5 separate regions of the Homo sapiens genome follow, and regions 2, 3, 4 and 5 are each linked to region 1. Evidence: fine-mapped expression QTL. A gene starts in region 1. Each other region holds a variant in brackets. All regions are shown on one strand. Distances are from middle to middle. Region 1 holds the start of CYP2E1 (cytochrome P450 family 2 subfamily E member 1). Region 2 has its middle 28 kb from the start of SCART1. Region 3 overlaps LOC105378575 (a long non-coding RNA gene). Region 4 overlaps SCART1 (scavenger receptor family member expressed on T cells 1). Region 5 overlaps MTG1 (mitochondrial ribosome associated GTPase 1).

Region 1 (5,101 bases):
TGCCTTTGTAGGGTGAATTTGGGACTCGCAGTTTCCACTTCACCCACTTTTGTGTTGTTTGCATTCGTTAAAAGGAGATATTTTACTTCCCCAATTAAAATTATCTTTCTAATCTTTATAAACAATTATTTAATTCCAGTAAATCTTCTCTATATTGCTTTACTAGTGAGTTCTATTAAAATTTTGAAGCACAGAAAATTCCCCTACAGTATAAAGTATCCCCAGTCACAGAGAAGACAGGGGTTTTGCAATGATTTCTAGAATAGTGCAATTTTTATGCAAGAACCTAATATAACACAAAAATTATAGCCCGATTTTATTTGTGGGTATAGATGCAAAATTACTAAAAATACTATTAACAAGTTGAATCCTTAGGGTGTTAAAAGAGTATCACTCCATGAACGAGTTGGTTGTGATGTGGAACTATGAGGTACTTTTATGATACAATATAAAAATTTATGGTAATTTTATGGTACATTGTGAGACAGTGTTTTCTTCTAGCATCATACTAGCAGGTCTATGGAGAAAAATCACAGGATTGTCTCAATCAAAAAAAGATTTCATTAACCCAACTCTCATCCCTGATAAACACTGTTAGTTATCTAGAGAAAGAAGAAAATTGTCCCAATACAGTCACCTCTTTGCCACACCCAGCCAACAGCAGACGTGATGGAAGCCTGAAGAACACCCTGCCACGGGCACAGGCAGAGGCACAGGCACCCTGTCGTCCTGATTATTTCACCTTGTCACGGGCAGAGGCACAGGCACCCTGTCGTCCTGATTATTTCACCTTGTCACGGACAGAGGCACAGGCACCCTGTCGTCCTGATTATTTCACCTTGTCACAGGCACAGGCACCCTGTCGTCCTGATTATTTCACCTTGTCACAGGCACAGGCACTCTGTCGTCCTGATTATTTCACCTTGTCACGGGCAGAGGCACAGGCACTCTGTCATCCTGATTATTTCACCTTGTCCTAGAGTGTCCTGCCAATGGGACAGATGCAAAACAAATAAAAGCCCCGGCTTCTGAAAAGAAGCACACAGAAATGTCATTATTTTCAAACGAGGTGTTCCCGTATATAAAATTTGATGTTGGTTGGGCATCTAACAGTATTATGGCCAGAGGACTCAGACCACAGCTGCATCCCTGTGAGGCACAGACTCTCCAGGGCACGCGGGTCCCGCCTGGGATGTGCACACTCAGGTGAGCTGCACAGACAAGGTGTCCTCAGCCCAGGGGAGCCAGAGGCCTGCTCTGCCTCTCCACCCTGATGCTTCCTGTTCTCACCCCACCAAAGCCAAGGCTTCAATTTCAGTCTGTGGGGAGCTGACTCTGCTGCTCTCAAGCACTAGAAGAAGGAACCAGTAATCGAGGAAACTTGTGGACCCCAATGGGTGTCTGTCCCGGCCAGGCCTGGCTGGGCCCACACAGGACAACAGGGTTCAGGGGTCTGGACAGCTGTTTCTGCCCAGGGAATTGTCCCTGCCACCTCACACTGGCCACTGGAAAGGAAAGAGAGGAGGAGGCGGCAGGCTAACCCACCCGTGAGCCAGTCGAGTCTACATTGTCAGTTCTCACCTCGAGGGGTGCCAAAAACCAGAGGGAAGCAAAGGCCCCTGAAGCCTCTGCCAGAGGCCAACGCCCCTTCTTGGTTCAGGAGAGGTGCAGTGTTAGGTGCAGCACAACCAATGACTTGCTTATGTGGCTAATAAATTGTCAAGAGAAAAACTGGGTTAGAATGCAATATATAGTATGTAGTCTCATTTTTGTATAAATACAAGTATAGAATGGCATAACTCAAAATCCACAAGTGATTTGGCTGGATTGTAAATGACTTTTATTTTCTTCATTTCTCATCATATTTTCTATTATACATAAAGATTCATTGTTAATATAAAAGTACAAAATTGCAACCTATGAATTAAGAACTTCTATATATTGCCAGTTAGAAGACAGAATGAAAAACATTCTCTTCATTCTAACCACACACACAAAAAAGCTCCACAAAATACCTATGGACTACCTTCATAGAAGGTGGAAGAGGGTCTGTATGAAGAAAATAATTAATACATGAAAGAAGAAGCTAGTCAATGTGGAGCTCTATTGTGTCCCGGGATCAACAAAGACAAGATATCTTTAAAATCGTCTTCTAAATTTACCCTAATGTAAAACAAATCCAATAAAACTCTAATGTAATTTTTTAAGAATTTAAATTTGGAATAATTCCAAAGAACAATTTTTCTTAATTTTCTACAGCCAGAATATATACCTTTAAAAAAAATGAAAACAGAGATTAACTTTCTCAGAATTGGTTGACTCACTCTTTCCTTTTATTTTTCTTCCATGGAATTTTCCAGTTAACTTGAGAAAGTGGAATCGAATTCCGATGTTGAATTTTCCTTCTGGCCCCATTCATGTGGCAGGTGGTGATTCAGGTACTACTGGGGGCTGCTCAGACAAACCTCCTCATCAGACATCAAGAGGCTGTTGCACCAGGAGGGCCGGTACCGTGTCTAGAGGTGGTCGGCATGGGGTTGGAGTTGTATTACATAAACCCTACTCCAAACAAATGCATGGGGATGTGGCTGGAGTTCCCCGTTGTCTAACCAGTGCCAAAGGGCAGGACGGTACCTCACCCCACGTTCTTAACTATGGGTTGGCAACATGTTCCTGGATGTGTTTGCTGGCACAGTGACAGGTGCTAGCAACCAGGGTGTTGACACAGTCCAACTCCATCCTCACCAGGTCACTGGCTGGAACCCCTGGGGGCCACCATTGCGGGAATCAGCCTTTGAAACGATGGCCAACAGCAGCTAATAATAAACCAGTAATTTGGGATAGACGAGTAGCAAGAGGGCATTGGTTGGTGGGTCACCCTCCTTCTCAGAACACATTATAAAAACCTTCCGTTTCCACAGGATTGTCTCCCGGGCTGGCAGCAGGGCCCCAGCGGCACCATGTCTGCCCTCGGAGTCACCGTGGCCCTGCTGGTGTGGGCGGCCTTCCTCCTGCTGGTGTCCATGTGGAGGCAGGTGCACAGCAGCTGGAATCTGCCCCCAGGCCCTTTCCCGCTTCCCATCATCGGGAACCTCTTCCAGTTGGAATTGAAGAATATTCCCAAGTCCTTCACCCGGGTAAGAGAAATAGTGTTGATTTTAGGGAGAATAACTCAGCAATTGGATCTGGTATGTGTGTATTCAACTCATTTGCAGACAAATTGTGGTTGTTCAATACCAGCCTGTTGTGAATTACCTGAATTGATAGCATCCTGGAGCGACACTCAAAATGTGTCGCCTGTGGTGCAGCTGGAGCCCGGAGCCTGCGTGCCAGGCCCCGGAGGCCCCCGCCGGTGCCTTGTCCTGGGGCTGATGATGGGGAGGCCGGCGAGGCCGGGCTGCTGCGACGCCAGGATAACCGGGCTGGCGGCCAGATGCGCACTCGCTGGGCGTCCGCCTGTGTTTGCCAAAGCACGAGTTGAAACGTGAAGTGTTGGGCCAGCCCGTGTGGCACCAATACCTGCCGCCTACGACTGTTGTGAACACTGAATGGGCCAACAAACCTAAACGTTAAATGAACTGATAACGCCGTCAGCACGGAGCAGGCGCTGGGTGTTTGCGCTCTTGCGCGTGCGCTCTGTGGGGCGCAGGCTGACGGCGGGCGGGGGTCGCCTGCTCCAGCTCGGGCTCCCGCGCCAGAACCGGGTCCAGAACCTTGATTCCGGAAGCGGGCAACGGGGTGGTTGGTGGGCGCGCCTGAGGGAAGGGACGTGAGGAGCCGGAGTCCGCGGAGTTGCCGCGGAGTTGTCCGCGGAGTCCAGGCGGGTGGGGAGCAGAGCAGCTGGAACCCCCCGAGCGCCCTGCAGACGCAGCAGCCTCTTGAGGGGAGGGTCTCCCCCACCTCGGGCTGGACAAAGACAGCTTTTCCCCACGTCCCTCTGGGTTCTCTAGAGCAACAGCAATACCCGCCCGGCAGGGGTGTGGCTTAGAGCCCCGCACCTCCTCGCCGCGCGGCGGGCCTGACTTCTAGCCACGGGTCTCCGCAGTTGGCCCAGCGCTTCGGGCCGGTGTTCACGCTGTACGTGGGCTCGCAGCGCATGGTGGTGATGCACGGCTACAAGGCGGTGAAGGAAGCGCTGCTGGACTACAAGGACGAGTTCTCGGGCAGAGGCGACCTCCCCGCGTTCCATGCGCACAGGGACAGGGGTGAGTCCGCGTCCCTGGCACGGAGCGGGGGGTGCATAACACGCCCCGGGACAGTTACGGGCGCTAGCCACGTCGGCGATGGCCAAATAATAAACTAACAGTAATATTATAGTAACAGCATCCGAAGGATGAGATCAGGATTAGGGCGATGGCCCCCGCGCGTTGCCTGCGGAGCGAGGCGCACTGAGTCGCCCAGGAATCCGGCCTCTCGGCGACTGTGCGGGAGAGTTTATGGGGATGGGCGGGGCTGCTTCTGAGCAGGAGTCGCCGCCCCCACCCCCACCGTTCCGCCTCTGGGCCCGCAGGCTCCTCCCGGGAGCGCTTTCCCCTCCTGTTCAACCGCCGGGGTACAGGTGGCTTCGTCCACCGAGGTCCCCTCACCCACGCTGAGGCGTCGGAAGCTGCGGACACTGCTCGCTTCAGGGCTTTGCTCAGCTGCAGCTGGTGACCTCCAGAGAGGGAGTCTCTGATGTCCCGCTGGGGTGGATGTCCTGAGACCGGGAAGGGGGAAGAGACCCACTGAAATCCTATCTCCCAGCCTCACCTCTGCTGTCTCCTCCACGCTTCCTGTCTCCAGAGCCCCGAGTTCAGCATAAGCAGAAAGCGGCCTGTTCCCTCTCTAGGGAGAGGAGGGTTGCGGTCTGGAGGTCTGGCTCGTCTTTATCTGCGCATTCTCCCAGCCTCCTGGCTTCAGACCTCAGCGAGGCGGCGGCTGCCGGCCGGCTCTCCTCTTCCTGCCTGCAGACCTGGCCTGCTGCTTCTTTCTCCTTCCTCCCTCCCTGCCTGCCCTGCGGTTTCAAAGTAGATTAGAAATAACAGTGTCCCACATGGAAGCCTCTACTTCTTCCTGGGTCAACTTTGATGACGAGGCTCCAGAAAACCTTTGCAATGCTGTG
Region 2 (5,101 bases), 45 kb before region 1:
CAGAGAGTCTCAGCAGGACAGCGAGCAAGCGGACAGGTCCCAGAGAGTCTCAGCAGGACAGCGAGCAAGCGGACAGGTCCCAGAGAGTCTCAGCAGGACAGCGAGCAAGCGGACAGGTCCCAGAGAGTCTCAGCAGGACAGCGAGCAAGGGGACAGGTCCCAGAGAGTCTCAGCAGGACAGCGAGCAAGGGGACAGGTCCCAGAGAGTCTCAGCAGGACAGCGAGCAAGGGGACAGGTCCCAGAGAGTCTCAGCAGGACAGCGAGCAAGCGGACAGGTCCCAGAGAGTCTCAGCAGGACAGCGAGCAAGCCGACAGGTCCCAGAGAGTCTCAGCAGGACAGCAAGCAAGCGGACAGGTCCCAGAGTCTCAGCAAGACAGCGAGCAAGGGGACAGGTCCCAGAGAGTCTCAGCAGGACAGCGAGCAAGCGGACAGGTCCCAGAGAGTCTCAGCAGGACAGCGAGCAAGCGGACAGGTCCCAGAGAGTCTCAGCAGGACAGCGAGCAAGCCGACAGGTCCCAGAGAGTCTCAGCAGGACAGCGAGCAAGCGGACAGGTCCCAGAGTCTCAGCAAGACAGCGAGCAAGGGGACAGGTCCCAGAGAGTGTCAGCAGGACAGCGAGCAAGCGGACAGGTCCCAGAGAGTCTCAGCAGGACAGCGAGCAAGGGGACAGGTCCCAGAGAGTCTCAGCAGGACAGCGAGCAAGCGGACAGGTCCCAGAGAGTGTCAGCAGGACAGCGAGCAAGCGGACAGGTCCCAGAGTCTCAGCAAGACAGCGAGCAAGGGGACAGGTCCCAGAGAGTCTCAGCAGGACAGCGAGCAAGCGGACAGGTCCCAGAGAGTCTCAGCAGGACAGCGAGCAAGGGGACAGGTCCCAGAGAGTCTCAGCAGGACAGCGAGCAAGGGGACAGGTCCCAGAGAGTCTCAGCAGGACAGCGAGCAAGCCGACAGGTCCCAGAGAGTCTCAGCAGGACAGCGAGCAAGCGGACAGGTCCCAGAGTCTCAGCAAGACAGCGAGCAAGGGGACAGGTCCCAGAGAGTGTCAGCAGGACAGCGAGCAAGCGGACAGGTCCCAGAGAGTCTCAGCAGGACAGCGAGCAAGGGGACAGGTCCCAGAGAGTCTCAGCAGGACAGCGAGCAAGCGGACAGGTCCCAGAGAGTGTCAGCAGGACAGCGAGCAAGCGGACAGGTCCCAGAGAGTGTCAGCAGGACAGCGAGCAAGGGGACAGGTCCCAGAGAGTCTCAGCAGGACAGCGAGCAAGCGGACAGGTCCCAGAGAGTGTCAGCAGGACAGCGAGCAAGCGGACAGGTCCCAGAGAGTCTCAGCAGGACAGCGAGCAAGCGGACAGGTCCCAGAGAGTCTCAGCAGGACAGCAAGCAAGCGGACAGGTCCCAGAGCGTCTCAGCAGGACAGCGAGCAAGGGGACAGGTCCCAGAGAGTGTCAGCAGGACAGCGAGCAAGGGGACAGGTCCCAGAGAGTCTCAGCAGGACAGCGAGCAAGGGGACAGGTCCCAGAGAGTCTCAGCAGGACAGCGAGCAAGGGGACAGGTCCCAGAGAGTCTCAGCAGGACAGCGAGCAAGCGGACAGGTCCCAGAGCGTCTCAGCAGGACAGCGAGCAAGGGGACAGGTCCCAGAGAGTGTCAGCAGGACAGCGAGCAAGGGGACAGGTCCCAGAGAGTCTCAGCAGGACAGCGAGCAAGGGGACAGGTCCCAGAGAGTCTCAGCAGGACAGCGAGCAAGGGGACAGGTCCCAGAGAGTCTCAGCAGGACAGCGAGCAAGGGGACAGGTCCCAGAGAGTCTCAGCAGAACAGCGAGCAAGCGGACAGGTCCCAGAGAGTCTCAGCAGGACAGCGAGCAAGCGGACAGGTCCCAGAGAGTCTCAGCAGGACAGCGAGCAAGCGGACAGGTCCCAGAGAGTCTCAGCAGGACAGCGAGCAAGGGGACAGGTCCCAGAGAGTCTCAGCAGGACAGCGAGCAAGGGGACAGGTCCCAGAGAGTCTCAGCAGGACAGCGAGCAAGCCGACAGGTCCCAGAGAGTCTCAGCAGGACAGCGAGCAAGCGGACAGGTCCCAGAGAGTCTCAGCAGGATGGCGAGCAAGAGGACAGGTCCCAGAGAGTCTCAGCAGGACAGCGAGCAAGCGGACAGGTCCCAGAGAGTCTCAGCAGGACGGCGAGCAAGAGGACAGGTCGCCTGGCCACCCTGTTCCTGGGCTGGTGGCACTAGCTGTGCCCAGTGACCCCTGAGGGCCTCGCGCTCCTAATGGCAGCAGACAACCACACAGCGTAGAGGCGTTTGTCCTGCAGGGTTTCTCTGAAGACCTTCCACTCCAGGGCTGCTGCTTTGCTTTTTTCCTCCTTTACCTGATGGCACTTGTAGGAAACATCCTCATGGTCATGGCCATCAGTCTGAATCCAGGCCTCCACACGCCAGTGTACTTCTTTCTCACCAACCTGGCCCTTTTAGACATCGTCTGCACATCCATGGACAACAGCAGAGTGGTGGCTGTGCTGTACACAGTGGTCAGCCCCACCCTGAACCCCTCACCTACTCCCTGCGGAACAAGGACTTATCAGTAGCACTGAGGAGAGTGTTTTCTTGCATCAGGTAAAAG[G/T]AAGGGAAGTTTCTAGTGTGAAATGTTCCAGGTGTTAACAAACTAATTTCAACATATGACTTTGAGAATCTCATGCAAGCAGCAAGGAACAAGAAAGTAATTAATGCCACATATTTATAAATAATGTGCTCCCGCACGGGGCTGCCATCATTCAATGTGGAACTCCCAACATCCCAAGGCTGTATGGGTAGGTGCAGTCAGGGCTACAAGGCAGCAGGGAGCTAAGGGAGGGCCAGCGGCTAGTTGAGCAGGAGCCCAAAAGGGCCACTTAACACCCTCCGACACCCCATGCACCTGCTTGACTCCCTTTCACTGGCAACTGGGTCCCAGGAGCAATGTGGGAGCATTCACCTTGGGGGTGCCGCTGGCCGTGTCTTCGTTTAGTCAGGGGTTCTTGCCCGGGGATGGGTCGAGAGTCACATATGCCCACTGTGCACACTGCCTGGTCTATGTTGACGGGGTGGGGGCATTTCTTGATATCCTGCTTTGGAGAAAATCACCCAAACCCCGACTCTCCAACCCAACTCCTCTTGGTGTGAGGTCAAGGAAAACATGAGAAATGCTCTCCTCCCTGTGTGAGGTTTCGTGGTCCTGGCACCATAAAGGGTGAGAGATGGGGTTATCCAGCCTTTCTTTTTAATGACCTGCAGGAAATACATGGGGCTTTACTGATTTACTTCCTTTCAGAGAAGGGCATTCTCATTCTTTAATTTATGCACCAATCACCTACATTCTGTCATTAACTTATTATCTTTGTTTAATTGATTATCCTTGTGTCCATCACCAATCCATCTATTTTATGCATTTCAAAGCCAGTTGCAAACATCATTTCACTTCTTAAATACTTCTGCGTGCATATCATTAAACATTTGTTTATAGTTATTTTTCCTTTTAAGGTAATATTTTCAAACAACAAAATGCATAAATAAGGGTGTACGTTTGCTGAGTAATGTAATTATCAAATCAGGTGCCCATGTGTGATGATCAAATCGGGTACCCGTGTGTGATGATCAGATCCTTCTGTCTAATTGTATGTTTGTACCCCTTAACAACCTCTGTTCATCCCCTTCCCCCACACTCTTCCCAGCATCTGGTAACTATCATTTTACCCTCTACCTCCATGAGATCAACTTTTTAAGCTCCCACATGTGAGTGAGAACATGCAATATTTGTCTTTCTATGGCCAGCTTATTTCACTTGTCATAATGACCTCCAGTTCCATCCATGTTGCTGCACATGATAAGATTTCATTCTTTTTTATGGCTGAATAGTATTCCATTGTGTATATATACCACATTTTCCTTATCCCTTCATTCATTGATGGACACTTAGGTTGATTCCATATCTTGGCTATTGTGAATAGTGCTGCAATAAACATGGGGGTACAGGTATCCCTTTGATATACTGATTTCTTTTCCTTTGGATAAATACCCAGTGGGATTGCTGGTTCATATGGTAGTTCTATTTTTAGTTTTTGAGAAACCTCCATACTGTTTGCCATGATGGCTGTACTAATTTACATATCCACTAACAGTGCACGAGAGTTCCCTTTTATCTGCGCTCTTGCCGCCATTTGTTATTTTTTTGTCTTTTTGATAATAACCGTCCTAACTGGGATGAGATGACATCTCATTGTGGTTTTGATTTGTGTCTCCCTGATGATTCTTGATGTTGAGCATTTTTTTTACATACCTGTTGTCTATTTGCATGTCTTCTTTTGAGAAATGTCTATTCAGATCATTTGCCCATTTTTAAATCTTTTTTTTTCTGTTGAGATGTTGCAGCTTCTTTTATATTCTGGATATTAATCACTTCTTGGATGATTGGTTTGCAGATATTTTCTCCCATTCTATAGGTTGTCTCACCACTCTTTTGATTGTTTCCTTCACCATGTAAAAATCTTTTAGTTTGATATAACACTATTTGTTAATTTTTGCTTTTGTTGCTTGTGATTTCAAGGTCTTATTCATAAAATCTTTTTTTTCAGACCAATGTTCTGAAGCATTTACCCTATGTTTTCTTCTAGCAGTTTTATAGTTTTGGGTCTTACATTTAGATCTTTGATTCATTTTGAGTTGATTTTTGTATAGAGTAGAAAGGGGTCTAGTTTTATTCTTCTGCATGTGAATATCTAGTTTTCCCAGTACCATTTATTAAAGAAGCTGTCCTTTCCTCAGTGAATATTCTTGGCACCTTTGTCAAAAATCAGTTGGCTGTAGATATGTGGATTAATTTCTGGGTTCTCCATTCTGTTCCATTGGTCTATGTGTCTGTTTTTATGCCAGTACCATGCCATTGCTGTTTTGGTTACTGCAGCTTTGTAGTATATTTTGAGGTCTGCTAATGTGATGATAGCTTCAGCTTTGTTCCTTTTGCTCAGGATTGCTTTGGCTATTCGGGATATTTTGTGATTCCATACAAATTTTATGATTTTTTTTCTAGTTCTGTAGGAATGTCATTGGTATTTTGGTAGAGATAGCACTGAAT
Region 3 (5,101 bases), 30 kb before region 1:
ATTAGGGATTCTGTTTGGGGGCTCTGACCCCACATTTCCCTTCTGCACTGCTGTGGCAGAGGTTCTCTATGAAGGCCTTGCGCTTGCAACAAACTTTTGCCTGGGCATCCAGGCATTTCCATACATCTTCTGAAATCTAGGCGGAGGTGCCCAAACCTCAATTCTTGACTTCTGTGTACCCACAGGCTCAACACCATGTGGAAGGTGCTAAGGCTTAGGGCTTGCACCCTCTGAAGCCATGGCTGGAGCTTTACCTTGGTCCCTTTTAGTCATGGCTAGGGGCAGCTGGGACACAGGACACCAAGTCCCTTGGCTGTACACAGCATGGGGACCCTGGGCCTAGCCCAGGAAGCCATTTTTATCTTGTACACCTCCAGGCCTGTGATGAGAAGGGCTGCTGTGAAGACCTCTGACATGCCCTGGAGAGGCATGTCTTTTCCCCATTGTCTTGTGAGTTAACATTCTGCTCCTCGTTACTTATGCAAATTTCTGCAGCTGGCTTAAATTTCTCCCCAGAAAATGGGATTTTCTTTTTCTATTGCATTGTCAGGCTGCAAATTTTCCAAACTTCTATGCTGTGCTTTCCTTATAAAATGGGATGCCTTTAACAGCACCTGAATCACCTCTTGAATGTTTGCTGCTTAGAAATTTCTTCCACCTGATACCCTAAATCATCTCTCTCTGGTTCAAAGTTCCACAGGTCTGTAGGGCAGGGGAAAAATGCTGCCAGTCCCTTTGTTAAACATAACAAGAGTCACCTTTGCTCCACTTCCCAACAAGTTCCTAATTTCCATTTGAGATCACCTCAGCCTGGACTTTATTGTCCATATTGCTATCAGCATTTTGGGCAAAGTCTCTAGGAAGTTCCAAACTTTCCCACATTTTCTTATCTTCTTCTGAGCCCTCCAAATTGTTCCAACCTCTGCCTGTTACCCAATTCCAAAGTCAATTCCACATTTTTGGGTATCTTTTCAGCAACACAACAGCCCACTCCTGGTACCAAAATCTGTATTAGTCAGGGTTCTCTAGAGGGACAGAACTAATAGGATAAATATTATATATGTATATATATATGTATATATGTAAATGGGAGTTTATTAAATATTAACTAACATGATCACGAGGTCCCCACAATAGGCTGTCTGCAAGCTGAGGACCAAGGAGAGCCAGTCCAAGTCCCAAAACTGAAGAACTTGGAGTCTGATGTTTGAGGGCAGGAAGCATCCAGCATGGGAGAAAAATGTAGGCTGGAAGGCTAAGCCAGTCTTGCCTTTTCATGTTTTTCTGCCTGCTTTATATTTGCTGGAAGCTCATTAGATGGTGTCCACCTGATTAAGGGTGGGTCTGCCTTCCCCAGCCCACTGACTCAAATCTCCTTTGGCAACACCCACACAGACTCACCTAGGGTTAATACTTTTTACAGTCCTTATTTCTGCAGCTGGTCATGTGGTCGTAGCTGGTATTGATGACTACCTTCTTCTATCACCCACTGTGTATTCCCTTTGCCTTCTGCAAGCACCTCATCAGATCAAGGTTTTTTTCCTGGTGGAGTGACTTAAACCTTCATTCCTGAAGGGTCTGGACCATTTGTAGTCCTCCCTGGATTGGGCTGTTGTAGTTTCTCATTGACCTTAATCACAGGGCATGGTAATACTAAGTGACATCCTAATGGATCTCCTGTATTCCATGCATGCTCCTCCTTACCTCTGTTATGGAGTAGTAGACTGATTTCATCTTGATAGTCTGGGTCAATCAACCTAGCCAACACTGTAACTCCCTTCTTAGCCTGTTTACTTAAAGGTAGGAGGAGCCCGAAGTGTCCAGGTGACAATCTTAACTTTCAGTTTAATGGAATTGTTGTTGTGTCTCCTGGTGGCAGTGTTACTCCCTCTGGAACTAAGATCTCTAGGCTAGCAGAACGTAATGTTGCAGGAACAGGAAGCAAAAATTTTGCTACTGGATCATTAGGGGTGATGGTGAGTGGTGCCACTTCCACTTCCACCCCTTGATTCCTGGACCCGTGAATCCTGGCTATGGGAGAAACAGTACCATATATCAGATGCTGATCCAGTGCATACACAGCCTTCTAGAGTACTTTGCCCCAGCCCTGCAAAGTATTGTCATCTAATTGACATGGTAATTGTAGGGTCCAGCCCCACAGGGTTGGTGCATTTTCTCCTTCTGTGTGGAGACGAGAGAGCGTAGAAATAAAAACACAAGACAAAGAGATAAAAGAAAAGACAGCTGGGCCCGGGGGACCACTACCACCAAGATGCGGAGACTGGTAGTGGCCCCGAATGCCAGGCTGCACTGATATTTATTGGATACAAGACAAAGGGGCAGGATAAGGAGTGTGGGCCATCTCCAATGATAGGGAAGGCCACATGGATCACATGTCCCCTGGACAGGGGGCCCTTTCCTGCCTGGCAGCCGAGGCAGAGAGAGAGAGGAGAAAGAGAAACAGCTTACACCATTATTTCTGCTTATCAGAGACTTTTAGTACTTTCACTAATTTGCTACTGCTAACTAAACGGCAGAACCAGGTGTACAAGATGGAACATGAAGGCAGACTAGGAGTGTGACCACTGAAGCACAGCATCACAGGGAGACGGTTAGGCCTCCGAATAACTGTGGGTGGGCCTGACTAATGTCAGGCCTTCCACAAGAGGTGGAGGAGTAGAGTCTTCTCTAAACTCCCCTGGGGAAAGGGAGACTCTCTTTCCCGGTCTGCTAAGTAGCGGGTGTTTTTCCTTGACAC[T/C]AACGCTACTGCTAGACCACGGTCTGCTTGGCAATGGGCATCTTCCCAGATGCTGGCGTTACCGCTAGACCAAGGAGCCCTCTGGTGGCCCTGTCTGGGCATAACAGAAGGCTCACACTCTTGTCTTCTGGTCACTTCTCACTATGTCCCTTCAGCTCCTATCTCTGTATGGCCTGGTTTTTCCTAGTTTATGATTATAGAGTGAGGATTATTATAATATTGGAATAAAGAGTAATTGCTACTAATGATTAATGATATTCATATATAATCATATCTAAGATCTATCTCTGGTATAACTATTCTTATTTTATATTTTATTATACTGGAACAGCTCGTGTCCTCGGTCTCTTGCCTTGGCACCTGGGTGGCTTGCCACCCACAGCAATTGTGACTTTGAAAGGCCATTCCACCGTTCTATCAATCCAGCTGCTTCAGGATGATGGGCAACGTGGTAAGACCAGTGAATTCCACGAACATGAGCCCACTGCTGCACTTCTATGGCCGTAAAGTGAGTACCTTGGTCAGAGGCAATACTGTGTGGAACACCATGATGGTGGATAAGGCATTCCATGAGTCCACAGATGGTAGTCTTGGTAGAAGTATCGTGTGCAGGATAGGCAAACCGATATCCAGAATAAGTATCTATTCCAGTGAGGACAAATCTCTGCCCTTTCCATGATGGAAGAGGTTCAATATAATCAACCTGCCACCAGGTAGCTGGCTGACCACCCTGAGAAATGGTGCCATATCGAGGAATCAGTGTTGGTCTCTGCTGCTGGCAAATTGGGCACTCAGCAGTGGCCATAGCCAGATCAGCCTTGGTGAGTGGAAGCTCATATTGCTGAGCCCATTCATAACCTCCATCCCTGCCACCATGGCCACTTTGTTCACGGGTCCATTGGGCAATGACAGAGGTGCTTGGGAAAGAGGCTGAATGGTGTCCACAGAAGTGGTCATCCTATCCACTTGATTATTAAAATCCTCCTCTGCTGAGGTCACCCATTGGTGAGCACTCACATGGGATACAAATATCTTCACAGTTTTTGACCACTCAGAGAGGTCCATCCACATACCTCTTCCCCACATTTCTTTGTCACAATTTCCGATCATTCTTCTTTCAAGTCCCTGACCATCCAACCAAACCATTAACTACAGCCCATGAATCAGTATATAATCACACATCTGGCCATTTCTCCTTCCATGCAAAGTGCACAACCAGGTTCACTGCTCTTAGTTCTGCCCACTGGGAAGATTTTCCTTCCCTACTGTCCTTCAGGGATGTCCTAGAAAGGGGCTGTAGTGCTGCAGCTCTCCACTTTTGGGTGGTGCCTGCATATCATGCGGAACCATCCACGAACCAGGCCCAACTAATTATAGGGAACTTCCCATGAGGCCGTTGGGGCAGGCTCGGGGAGAGAAGGAAGGGTGGCAGGAGTGGAGACCATGGGCATTTGAACCACTTCCTCATGTAACTTACTTGTGCCTTCAGGACCTGCTGGAACCTGATCACATATATACCACTTCCATCCTGTGGTCATTTCCCTAGTGCCACTTCCATTTGATGACGGAATGCTGCTGTGCACAACCCACTTAATGGCTAGATGGGTCAGAAAGCACCCAGTTTATGATAGGCAGTTCAGGTCGCGTGGTGACTTGGTGACCTACAGTCAAACGTTCAGTTTCCACCAAAGCCCAGTAACAGGCTAAGAGCTGTCTCTCAAAAGGAGAGTAGTTATCTGCAGAAGATGGCAGGGCCTCGCTCCAAAATCCTAGAGGCCTCCACTGTGATTCACCTATGGGAGCCTGCCAAAGGCTCCAAACAGCATGCCTATCTGCCACTGACACCTCAAGCACCATTGGATATGCTGGGCCATATGGCCCAAGTGGCAGAGCAGCTTGCACAGCAGCCTGGACCTGCTGCAGAGCCTTCTCTTGTTCTGGACTCCACTCAAAACTGACAGCTTTTCAGGTCACTCAATAAATGGGCTGGAGTAACACACCCAAATGAGGAATGTGTTGCCTCCAAAATCCAAATAGGCCCACTAGGCATTGTGCCTCTTTCTTGGTTGTAGGAGGGGCCAAATGCAGCAACTTATCCTTCACCTTAGGAGGAATATCTCTACAGGCCCCATACCACTGGACCCTTAGAAATTTTACTGAGGTAGAAGGTCCCTGAATTTTAGGCAGATACACTTCCCATCCTCTGGCATGCAAATGTTTCACCAATAAGTCCAGTGTTTGCTACTTCTTGCTCACTGGATCCAATCTGCATAATGTCATCAATGTAATGGACCAGTGTGATATCTTTTGGAGGCAAAAAGCGATCAAGTTCTCTCTGAATAA
Region 4 (5,101 bases), 56 kb before region 1:
TTCCAGGCCCTGCCTGGCTCTAAACCTCATCCCCTTCGAGGGCCATCTGCTGTGGACAGTTGTGCTGTGTAACCTTCAGATTTCCCACACATTACAGCAAATGCAAATACACATAGAAATCAGTGGTTCCATTTGTGGTTTAGAGACACATGGTGCCATCTTCATCTTCCGCTCCACAGCTCGCTTCTGGCACCCAGCAGTGGGTTGCAGAGCTCCCCATGCCAGAACCTTCCTCTTTTTTCTTAAAAACTCTTCTTAATTGAATCCAAAGTATCTTTTAAATGTTCTACTTGTGTAATCATGTCATCTGTGAATATTCAGATTTATCTTCTCCTTCCAATCCGTGTACATTTAATCTCTTTTTCTGTGCCTTATTTCGGGGGCTGGGACCCTTCAGTCCAGTGTTGAAGAGAGGCAGCCAGTGGAGGTCTTGTCTCATTCAAGGACTCAGAGCAAATGTGTTCCACATTTAATTTCACTATGAAATATAATATTTGATGTTCAGTTTTGTAGATGCTATTTATCAGATCAAGGAAAGCCCAGTCTATACCTAATTTGTTAAGGGTTTTGCTTTTTATCATAAGTGTTGACTTTTATCAAATTCTTTTTTGTATCTATTAAGATGATAGATGATTGATTTTCATATGTTAAATTAACCATGGGTTAAACAAACTTACCTTTATCATGATATATTATTCTTTTTGTATTTCACAGGAATTAGTTTGGTAATATGTTGGGTCAATGTTTAAAAAAGAAAATGATGTGTAATTTTTTTCTTTTATTGTAGTATTTCTGTTTAATTTTTGGTATGAGGATTATTCAGGTCTCATAAGAGTTAGGAGTATATTCTCTTTTAAAAAATATTTGCTAATTTACACTCCCACCAACAGTGTAAAAGTGTTCTTATTTCTCCACATCCTCTCCAGCATCTGTTGTTTCCTGACTTTTTAATAATCGCCATTCTAACTGGCATGAGATGATATCTCATTGTGGTTTTGATTTGCATTTCTCTAATGACCAGTGATGATGAACTTTTTTTCATATGTTTGTTGGCTGCATAAATGTCTTCTTTTGAGAAGTGTCTGTTCATATCCTTCACCCACTTTTTGATGGGGTTGTTTGCTTTTACCTTGTAAATTTGTTTAAGTTCCTTGTAGATTCTGGACATTAGCCCTTTGTCAGATGGATAGATTGCAAAAATTTTCTCCCATCCCGTAGGTTGCCTGTTCACTCTGATGACCTATCAATGATAGACTGGATAAAGAAAATGTGGCACATATACACCATGGAATATTATGCAGCCAGAAAAAAGGATGAATTCATGTCCTTTGCAGGGACGTGGATGAAGCTGGAAAACATCATTCTCAGCAAACTAACACTGGAACAGAAAACCAAACACTGCATGTTCTCACTCATAAGTGGGAGTTGAACAATGAGAACACATGGACACGGGGAGGGGAACATCACACACTGGGGCCTGTCAGGGGGTGGGGGGCTAGGGAAGGGATAGCATGAGGAGAAACACCTAAGGTAGATGACGGGTTGATGGGTGCAGCAAACCACCACGACACGTGTATACCTATGTAACAAACCTGCACATTCTGCACAGGTACCCCAGAACTTAAAGAATAATTTAAAAAAATTTGCAAGAGTTTATGTAGCATTGGTTTTATTTCTTCTTAAATGTTGGAAGAACTCACTAGTAAAGCTCTCTAGGCTTGGAGTTTCCTCTTTAGTGAGGTTTTTTTTTTCCAGATTTAATTTTTTAAAATAAATAGTTGAAGTATTCAGATTCTCTATTTCCTATTAGATCTGCTTTGTTCAGTCCTTTTAAAAAATGAATTGGTACATTTAATCTAAATTTTCAAGTTTTTCCATATAAATTTGTTAATAGTATCTTTCTACTAGCCTTAATGTCTACAAAATCTGTAGTCATGTGCATTTTTCAATCCTGATAGTGGCAATTTGTGTCTTCTCTCCTTTTTTTTTTTTTTTTTCGAGACCAAGGTCTCACTGTGTTGCCCACACCAGACTCAAACTCCTGGGCTCTAGCGATCCTCCCTCACAGCCCCCCGCACAGCTGGGACTCTGGGCACTCTGCTGTTCTTGACCGGTGCTGCTGGCGGCTTCATCTCATTAGTCTTTCCAAGGCACGTGGAGCTTGTGCCTTTGGTTTTCTTGATTTTTCTTGGTGAACATCTGCCTTCTAATTCGTTTATTTCTGTTCTCATCTTTGTGATTTCCTTCTGCTTATTCTAGCTTTTTTATATGGACATTCAGATTGTTGATATTCAGCATTTTTTCTTTTTTAATGCATATATTTTAGGTTATAACTTTCCCTTTTAGCATGGCTTTGGCTGCATTCCAAGAGTTTTGATATGTTGTGATTTTGTTTTAATAGGTTTATGGGGGTATAATTAGCATATAATAAACTTCACATATTTAAAGAATACATTGCAATAAGTTTTGACATGCACGTACACCCCTGAAAGGATCGCAGC[G/A]TCTATGAGAATGGACGCATCCATCGCCCCCAACGTTTTTCATGTATGTTTGAACATCTGTCCTGTCCCTTCCTGTGTCCTGCCCCTCAGGTGATAAAGTTCAGCTTTCTGACACTGTAGACTAGTTTGCACTATTTTAATTTTATGTAAATGGATTATATAGTATGTACTCTTTTTTCGGGGATGAGAGTCTGGCTTTTTTCGCTCAGCACAATTACTTGCGATTCATCCATGTGGTGAGAAACCATAGTTCATTTCTTCCTCTTGGCAAATAGCGCTCCATTGTGCTGTTTACCTGTTCACTTGATGGACATTTGCATTGCTTAAAGCTTCCAGCTATTGCAAAAAAAGCTGCTACAAATATTCATGTACCAGTCGTCATATGGACTCGTGCTTTCATTTCTCTTGGCTACCTAGGAATGGAACGATTGTAAGGTACGTGCAAGTTTAACATTCTACCAACCTTTCTGGAGTGGCTGCATCATGTTACATCTCCCCAGTAATCTCTGAGTGTTCTGCTTCCTCCACAAGGTTCCAACACTCGGTTGATAACGTTTGACATTCTAACAGGTATATGGTGCTGTGTCCTTGTGGTTTTAATTTGCATTTACCTAAGGACTAATGATATTGAACACCTTTTCATGTGTTTATTTGCCATCTGTATATGTACTCTGTTGAAGTGTCTGTTCAACATTTTTGCTCATGCTTTATTGGGTTGTTTGAGTTTTGAGCATTCTCATGAGCTCCCCTGGGGTGGTCCTTTCCAACTGTGGCCCTGGTACTGAGGGGTCCTCCCCACAGCAGGAACACAGGAAGAAAGTGTTCAATCAAGTCCTGCAGGATGGCCTCAGCCAGGTCCAGATGTGGGCTTGGGGGCCAGGCCACACTAAGCACCTTCCTCCCTCTGGGCTGTCTCCCCACAAGACTCACAGAGCTGAGCCAGGTGTCCCATTGGGCACACAGGGGACCCCACCCTGACAGCGGCCCCCATTGTACTTTGGGCCATTGCTGATCTTTGCTCTTGGTGGGCTGGCGGCTCAGATGTTGCCCAAGAGGCTGTGGGGCAGGAGCAAAGTCTGGGAGACTGGGAGGCTCTGGCTCTTAGGAAGTATCAAAGGCACCCAGGCCTGTGGGAAGAGGTGTCCTGGAGAGGAAAATGGCAGAGGGAGGTGTGTCTGCCCCAGCCGTGTGGGGCTGGAGAGTTGGGGAGAGAATGCATTTGCTATGACAATTCAGTGTTAAGAGTCCACGTGCCAGCAGAGCAGCCCCCAGCCTTGGCGCTACTGACCTTGGGGCTGGGTTGTTCTCTGCGTGGGGCCATCCTGTGCATCACAGGTGCTGAGCAGCATCCCTGGCCTCCACCCACCAGGCACCAGTGGCAGCCCCCTTCCAGTTGTGACAATAAAAAAATGTCTCCAGACGTCACCAAATGTTTCCTGGGGGCAAAATCAGCACAGTTGGAACTTCTGGGTTAGCAGCAGATTGGATAGGATGATGGTGAGTGACTGCCTAAACCATCACCAGCCTGTGTGAGCTGACAAAGGAGGGCTCCTTACTTATGAGTTTATTTGTGTAAAGTCTTAAAAAATTAAAGATATTAGCTTAGTAATTATACACATAATGAATTAACTTTACTGAAAAGAATAGTATGTAGAAAAAATGAGAATTTTAGCAAAATTATTAGACGGTGATGAATGTGGTGTCTCCCTCCTGAGATCTGGTTGTTGAGTGCGGCGTCTCCCTCCTGAGATCTAGTCGTTGAGTGTGGCGTCTCCCTCCTGAGGTCTGGTCAGTTGAGTGTGGCATCTCCCTCCTGAGATCTGGTCAGTTGAAAGTGTGGCGTCTCCGTCCTGAGATCTGGTCATTGAGTGTGGCGTCTCCCTCCTGAGATCTGGTCAGTTGAGTGTGGCGTCTCCCTCCTGAGGTCTGGTCAGTTGAGTGTGGCGTCTCCCTCCTGAGGTCTGGTCAGTTGAGTGTGGCGTCTCCCTCCTGAGATCTGGTCAGTTGAGTGTGGCGTCTCCCTCCTGAGATCTGGTCAGTTGAGTGTGGCGTCTCCCTCCTGAGGTCTGGTCAGTTGAGTGTGGCGTCTCCCTCCTGAGATCTGGTCGTTGAGTGTGGCGTCTCCCTTCTGAGATCTGGTCAGTTGAAAGTGTGGCGTCTCCCTCCTGAGATCTGGTCAGTGGAAAGTGTGGCGTCTCCCTCCTGAGATCTGGTCAGTTGAAAGTGTGGCGTCTCCCTCCTGAGATCTGGTCAGTGGAAAGTGTGGCGTCTCCCTCCTGAGATCTGGTCGTTGAGTGTGGCGTCTCCCTCCTGAGATCTGGTCGTTGAGTGTGGCGTCTCCCTCCTGAGATCTGGTCATTGAGTATGGTGTCTCCCTCCTGAGATCTGGTCAGTGGAAAGTGTGGCGTCTCCCTCCTGGGATGTAAGTTGTTGAGTGTGGCGTCTCCGTCCTGAGATGTGTTCAGTTGAGTGTGGCATCTCCCTCCTGAGATTTGGTCATTGAGTGTGGTGTCTCCCCCTCTTTCTTGTTCCTCTTTTGCCATGTGAGGCACCTGCTCCCCCTTCACCTTCCACCATGACTGGAAACTTCCTGAGGCCTC
Region 5 (5,101 bases), 110 kb before region 1:
ATAAATTAGGTATTGATGGGACGTATCTCAAAATAATAAGAGCTATCTATGACAAACCCACAGCCAATATCATACTGAATGGGCAAAAACTGGAAGCATTCCCTTTGAAAACTGGCACAAGACAGGGATGCCCTCTCTCACCACTCCTATTCAACATAGTGTTGGAAGTTCTGGCCAGGGCAGTTAGGCAGGAGAAGGAAATAAAGGGTATTCAATTAGGAAAAGAGGAAATCAAATTGTCCCTGTTTGCAGATGACATGATTGTATATCTAGAAAACCCCATTGTCTCAGCCCAAAATCTCCTTAAGCTGATAAGCAACTTCAGCAAAGTCTCAGGATACAAAATCAATGTACAAAAATCACCAGCATTCTTATACACCAATAACAGACAAACAGCCAAATCATGAGTGAACTCCCATTCACAATTGCTTCAAAGAGAATAAAATACCTAGGAATCCAACTTACAAGGGACGTGAAGGACCTCTTCAAGGAGAACTACAAACCACTGCTCAATGAAATAAAAGAGAATACAAACAAATGGAAGAACATTCCATGCTCATTGGTAGGAAGAATCAATATTGTGAAAATGGCCATACTGCCCAAGGTAATTTATAGATTCAATGCCATCCCCATCAAGCTACCAATGACTTTCTTTTTTTCTTTTTTTTGAGATGGCATCTCACTCTGTCGCCCAGCCAGGCTACAGTGCAGTGGCACAATCTCAGCCCACTGCAGCCTCCACCTCCTGGGTTCAAGCGATTCTCCCGCCTTAGCCTCCCAAGTAGCTGGGATTACAAGCATGTGCCACCACACCTGGCTAATTTTTGTATTTTTAGTAGAGACAGGGTTTCACCATATTGGTGAACAGGCTGGTGTCGAACTCCTGACCTCAAGTGATCCGTCCACCTTGGCCTCCCAAAGTTCTGGGATTACAGGCGTGAGCCACCATGCCTGGCTGGATGCCATGTATTTTGAGTTTCACCTTGTTAGGTGATGGATATCTACATTCCTGTAAAAATTCTTGAGCTTTGTTGTGGGACAGTTAGATTATTGGAAACAGTCCGGTCCTTTCAGGAGTTCTTCCCATTGGCAGGTCTCGGGGGTGGTCCGGGGCGCCTCCTCCAGGCTTGCTCCTCTCTCCTGGGACAGCTTTTTTGGAGCACCAGGGCACCCTTGAGGCTGCTGATTCAGAGCTCATGCTTGGTGCCTCCGAGAAGTTAGATTTAGAACCTGTGTTACTCAGGGTTCTGATGCTCCTATGGGCTCTGAGCTCATGTCTTGCTTTGCTGGGCCTTGGGGTGAGTCCTCTGTTACCGGCTCATGCTGTGACCAGGTCCGAGGGCACCAGCCTCCTCAAGGTTGAGCCTGCCCTCGTGGGAGCCACGAGACAGGTTCCCCTCACCCCTGGCTGTCAGGAAGGTTGGGAGAGTGTTGGGTCTGGGTTAGTCGGGCTCCCAAGGCTTAGGGTGGTGTTTGTCCCTGTGAGTGGCTGCTCTGTGCTGGCCTTTCCCTCCAGGCCTCTCTGCCCAGAGCCTGCACTGTGAGGAGTCAGAGTGCCCGTTACAATCACTGGGTGACGCTTAGCAGCGGTGGGTGCCTAGTCAGCCCATGCTGGTCCCTGTGCTAGGAAAACACCGCTCAAACACCCAGCCGGGTGGAGAGGATGCAGGTGTACTGGCTGCCTGGAAGTTACCGAGTGCCATCCTTAGCAGCAAACAGAGTATGTTTGCAGATGGTCTGCTGTGCTCCTCTTTTAGTTTCCAGGACCTGGGCCTGCACAGAGGCCTGCCTGTCCTACCCCGGATAGAGTGGATGAAGCCTGTGTGTGTGAACAGCTGTTACTCCTCCCGCTGCGGCAAGGGCTCCGGTGGTGGGAGCCGCCCCCCATGCTGCTGGCCGTGGCCACACAGGACGAAGCTCAGGGATGATTCTTAGATAGTGGCTCTCCCCCGGGGCCCAGCACCGGTCACCTGCAGTCTCATCTTGGTCATCCACAGCGCCGCAGTCACTGTCACCCACAGGAGGTGCCTGGCCGTGGCCTTTGTGGCATTCAGGAGGAAGGGCCCGGCCTGGCTGGCCGCGCGGTGTCAGTGCTGGGCCCCCTGGTGCTGACCTGCAGCCTATGTGCAGGTACGTGCAGCACTACGGCCTGGGCAGTGCCTGTGACAACGTAGAGCGCGTGCTGAAGAGTGTGGCTGTGAAGCTGGGGAAGACGCAGAAGGTGAAGGTGCTCACGGGCACGGGTGAGTGAGGTCGCTGATGCGGGCACCGGAGCCTCACCCCATCACCCTGGGGGACCCCGGCCATCCCTGGAGGAGGCAGGGAGGAGAGGAACGTGTCAAGGAGCATGCGCCGGGTCTTCTGGGAATGGGTTTCAGGGCAGGGGAGCTACAGAAAGTTCTGGAGAGGAAGGGCTTGTAGTCCAGGCTTCCGAGGGTGAGACCAGCCCTGCCGCGTATTGGGCAGTGCTAGGTGGACACCTGCAGGCCTCACATGCCTGGCCTTGGAGGCTCCGGGCAGCGTAGCTCAAGCTGTTTTCTTTCTGAGTGTGATCCCGTTCCCTGGGCTTCCCTGATGCCATCATGGAGCCTCTTAGGGCTGGTCCCTCAGGTGGGTAAGGGCTGGGCCTGTCCTGCTGTGAAGGCTCCTTCCTCACTGAACCCTCCCGTCCCCCAGGTAACGTGAACATTATTCAGCCTAACTATCCTGCGGCAGCCCGTGACTTCCTGCAGACTTTCCGCCGTGGGCTGCTGGGTTCCGTGATGCTGGACCTCGACGTCCTGCGGGGCCACCCCCCGGCTGAGACTTTGCCCTGAACTTGTCCGGGTAGGGAGGGCCGGAGGCATGTGGCCTCCCAGACCTCCTGACCTGGGTGGTTGAGGCTCAAGACAGCTCACCCGGTCCAGAAGCTCCATGCTGGTCACTAGGGTGCTGTGCTCTCTGGCGCCCCACAGCCTGGCCAGCTCCAGGGACCCCAGTTGCAGGGCCCAAGCAGGTGGGAGTGGACACCAGGCTTCCC[A/T]GTGGACGTCCCTGAGCAGCTCCGCATGCTTGGTTCTCCCGGAGCTTCCTGCTCAGGCCTCTTGAGAAATGGATGCTGTCTCAGAAGGAGTTAAAGCTATAACCTGTAACCTTTAAAATCTCCAGTTAAAGGGCCTGTTTCTTACTGGCCTGTGAGGTGCACCGTAGTGCCTTGGGCCTGTGTGTTAAAGCTGCTCTCACCAGTGAAACCTAAGAAATGAGCAGGTTGGCAGCTAGGGTTTGTGTTGGAGGCTTTCGGTCCAGTGTCTTGCAGTCCTACAACAAGTGAGAGGCTTGCTGCCATCAGAGAGGTTTATTTCACACTTACAGGCACACACAGACACAGACCAGAGACTCCCAGCAGCAGAGCCCAAGCACTGGCTTCGCCCCTCAGTGCCCTGGGGCATGTTCAGGGCAGGGTTGAGGGGGACGCCCTGCACATGGCTTTGCTGTGCAATGACTGGAAGGCCGCCCGGCATGGGCAGTAGAGACCCCTGGCCTCTGAGCACCTTCTAGCTCACGGGTAGTGGGATTCTGCATTAGTGGGGCTGAGAGATGTGGGGGCCCCTCCAGCCCCATTATAGTGCACCTGAAGGGGTCCACAGCCTGTGTCCTAGAAGAGGGAAGAGGAAGGAAGGTGGGTGGGGCTGGTAGTATGGACTAAGGTGCTGCAGGACCTGGGGCCAGGGACATCCTGTGCAGAAGCTCCGGCTGCCTCTTTGCGGTGGTGGCCTGACCGTCCCACAGCAGCCTCCACCAGGGCCCTGGTGCTCAGTGGCCCCTCTTTGCTGGCTGGCTGCCTCTGCTGCCCCATACCCCACACACTCATCAGCCTGAAGTTAGCCCCTGAGTGCCACCTGCATCGTGCCATAACCCTGACCGCCTGGGGCAGGAAGTATTCAGGTTGGCTGTGTCAGATGCTAATGTGCTGAATCAACAGTCATTGCAGATCACGAAGTGTCCATCATAACTGGAACATTCCATCAGCTTGCAGTGCTGTGGTGTGTGAGGGTCTGGTGCAGCTCAGCCCATTTTCCAGGTGGGCATCTGCAAAGTTGAGGGGGCTCCGGTGGGTCTCTCTGCTGTGAGGAGACTCAGACCACCCCCTGCCTCCTGGGGGAAATGTCAGAAGGGCTTCTCTGCCTATGAGGATCTGGGGCAGGGCTTGGCCTTGGCCTGCTGGTCTTGGAGGCGTTGAGCTTGGTCTGGAAGGGGTGGAGGAGCGTCTGGGCTCACTGGGCCAGGGGCATTGCTGGCAGTGTGGACGGGAGGCTGCAGGGCGCTGCCTCCTGTGGCTTAGTGCCCTGGAGCTAGAGAGCAGTGCTTGGTTGAGTCCTGCCAACAGCTTCCAGATCCTCACCCAGGCCAGAACCCAGGCCAGCTGGGGAAGGCAGAGGCTGGCAGGGCCCGTGGTGGGTGCTGGTCTTGACTTTGGTGTCCACTGAGTCCCGAGGCTCAGGCCCAGGAGGGATGCAGTCCGGCTGAGGGCGAGGCTGTCCCCAGGACATGGAGAGGGTGAGATCCCAAGGCCACGGCGGGGGGCAGGGAGAACCCCTCCTACCCTGGATGAGTGGGTGACTGGAGAGCTAGAGAACGTGGCAGACCCAAGACCTCTCAGTGCTGAGCCCATGGAGGATGCCCCAGGCTGGCGGGACTGGGAAGCAGAGGGCTGGTCTTAACACAGGTGTGTCCAGTGCTGGAGGCAAGTCCTTGTCGTGACTGTCCAGCGCCACTCCATGTCTCTCCTGTCCTTGGATGTTGGGGGGCTCAGCCTCTTGCATGGGTGTCCTGCTGGGCGCTGGGCCCCGCCACTGGCCCCCTGCTTGCTTTGGGGTCTGAGTTAGCTCCTGGCTCCACTGAGCAGGCCGTCAGCTGCCAGCCCACCACGCGGATACCCAGGCCCTGTTCCGAGGCCTGGAACAGCTGCTTCCGAAGAAGGGGCTGCCTTCAGGGAAATGCGTGCACCGTGCAGCCTGTGCTGTGCCCAGGGAGGCCTCTTCAGCGGGATTGGCAGTTGCTGTGCCCTGAGAACAGGCAGAACTGTGTGATCCCTGAATGTGAACCTGAAGTTCAAAGGACTTGG

Evidence for each region.
Region 2: its variant is fine-mapped to the expression of CYP2E1 in atrial appendage (GTEx, PIP 0.99).
Region 3: its variant is fine-mapped to the expression of CYP2E1 in whole blood (TOPMed, PIP 0.98).
Region 4: its variant is fine-mapped to the expression of CYP2E1 in whole blood (TOPMed, PIP above 0.99).
Region 5: its variant is fine-mapped to the expression of CYP2E1 in whole blood (TOPMed, PIP above 0.99).

What each region holds. Positions count from the first base shown.
Region 1 is chr10:133,524,436-133,529,536 of GRCh38, forward strand. It overlaps CYP2E1 (cytochrome P450 family 2 subfamily E member 1), which reads left to right and starts at 2,928. Exons shown (of 9, transcript NM_000773.4): 1 at 2,928-3,137; 2 at 4,046-4,205. The coding sequence starts at 2,961. It overlaps LOC105378575 (a long non-coding RNA gene), which reads right to left and starts at 2,524. Exons shown (of 5, transcript XR_946512.3): 1 at 2,325-2,524; 2 at 1-1,708. RefSeq lists promoters at 1-2,935, 1,566-3,023, 2,382-2,935, cis regulatory regions at 1,375-1,381, 2,607-2,631 and enhancers at 1,553-1,965, 2,254-2,381.
Region 2 is chr10:133,478,959-133,484,059 of GRCh38, forward strand. It overlaps the pseudogene OR7M1P. Among named protein-coding and RNA genes, the nearest start is that of SCART1, 28 kb to the left of the region's middle. The variant G/T (reference allele first, on the strand shown) is at 2,615.
Region 3 is chr10:133,494,740-133,499,840 of GRCh38, forward strand. All of the region lies in intron 4 of LOC105378575 (a long non-coding RNA gene), which reads right to left. Among named protein-coding and RNA genes, the nearest start is that of CYP2E1, 30 kb to the right of the region's middle. RefSeq lists a silencer at 2,784-2,863. The variant T/C (reference allele first, on the strand shown) is at 2,759.
Region 4 is chr10:133,468,110-133,473,210 of GRCh38, forward strand. It overlaps SCART1 (scavenger receptor family member expressed on T cells 1), which reads left to right. Exons shown (of 12, transcript NM_001396050.1): 12 at 1-1,651. Among named protein-coding and RNA genes, the nearest start is that of SCART1, 17 kb to the left of the region's middle. The variant G/A (reference allele first, on the strand shown) is at 2,502.
Region 5 is chr10:133,417,350-133,422,450 of GRCh38, forward strand. It overlaps MTG1 (mitochondrial ribosome associated GTPase 1), which reads left to right. Exons shown (of 11, transcript NM_138384.4): 10 at 2,131-2,243; 11 at 2,677-5,101. The coding sequence ends at 2,816. SPRN (shadow of prion protein) reads right to left here. Exons shown (of 2, transcript NM_001391974.1): 2 at 3,317-5,101. Among named protein-coding and RNA genes, the nearest start is that of SPRN, 4.7 kb to the right of the region's middle. The variant A/T (reference allele first, on the strand shown) is at 3,020.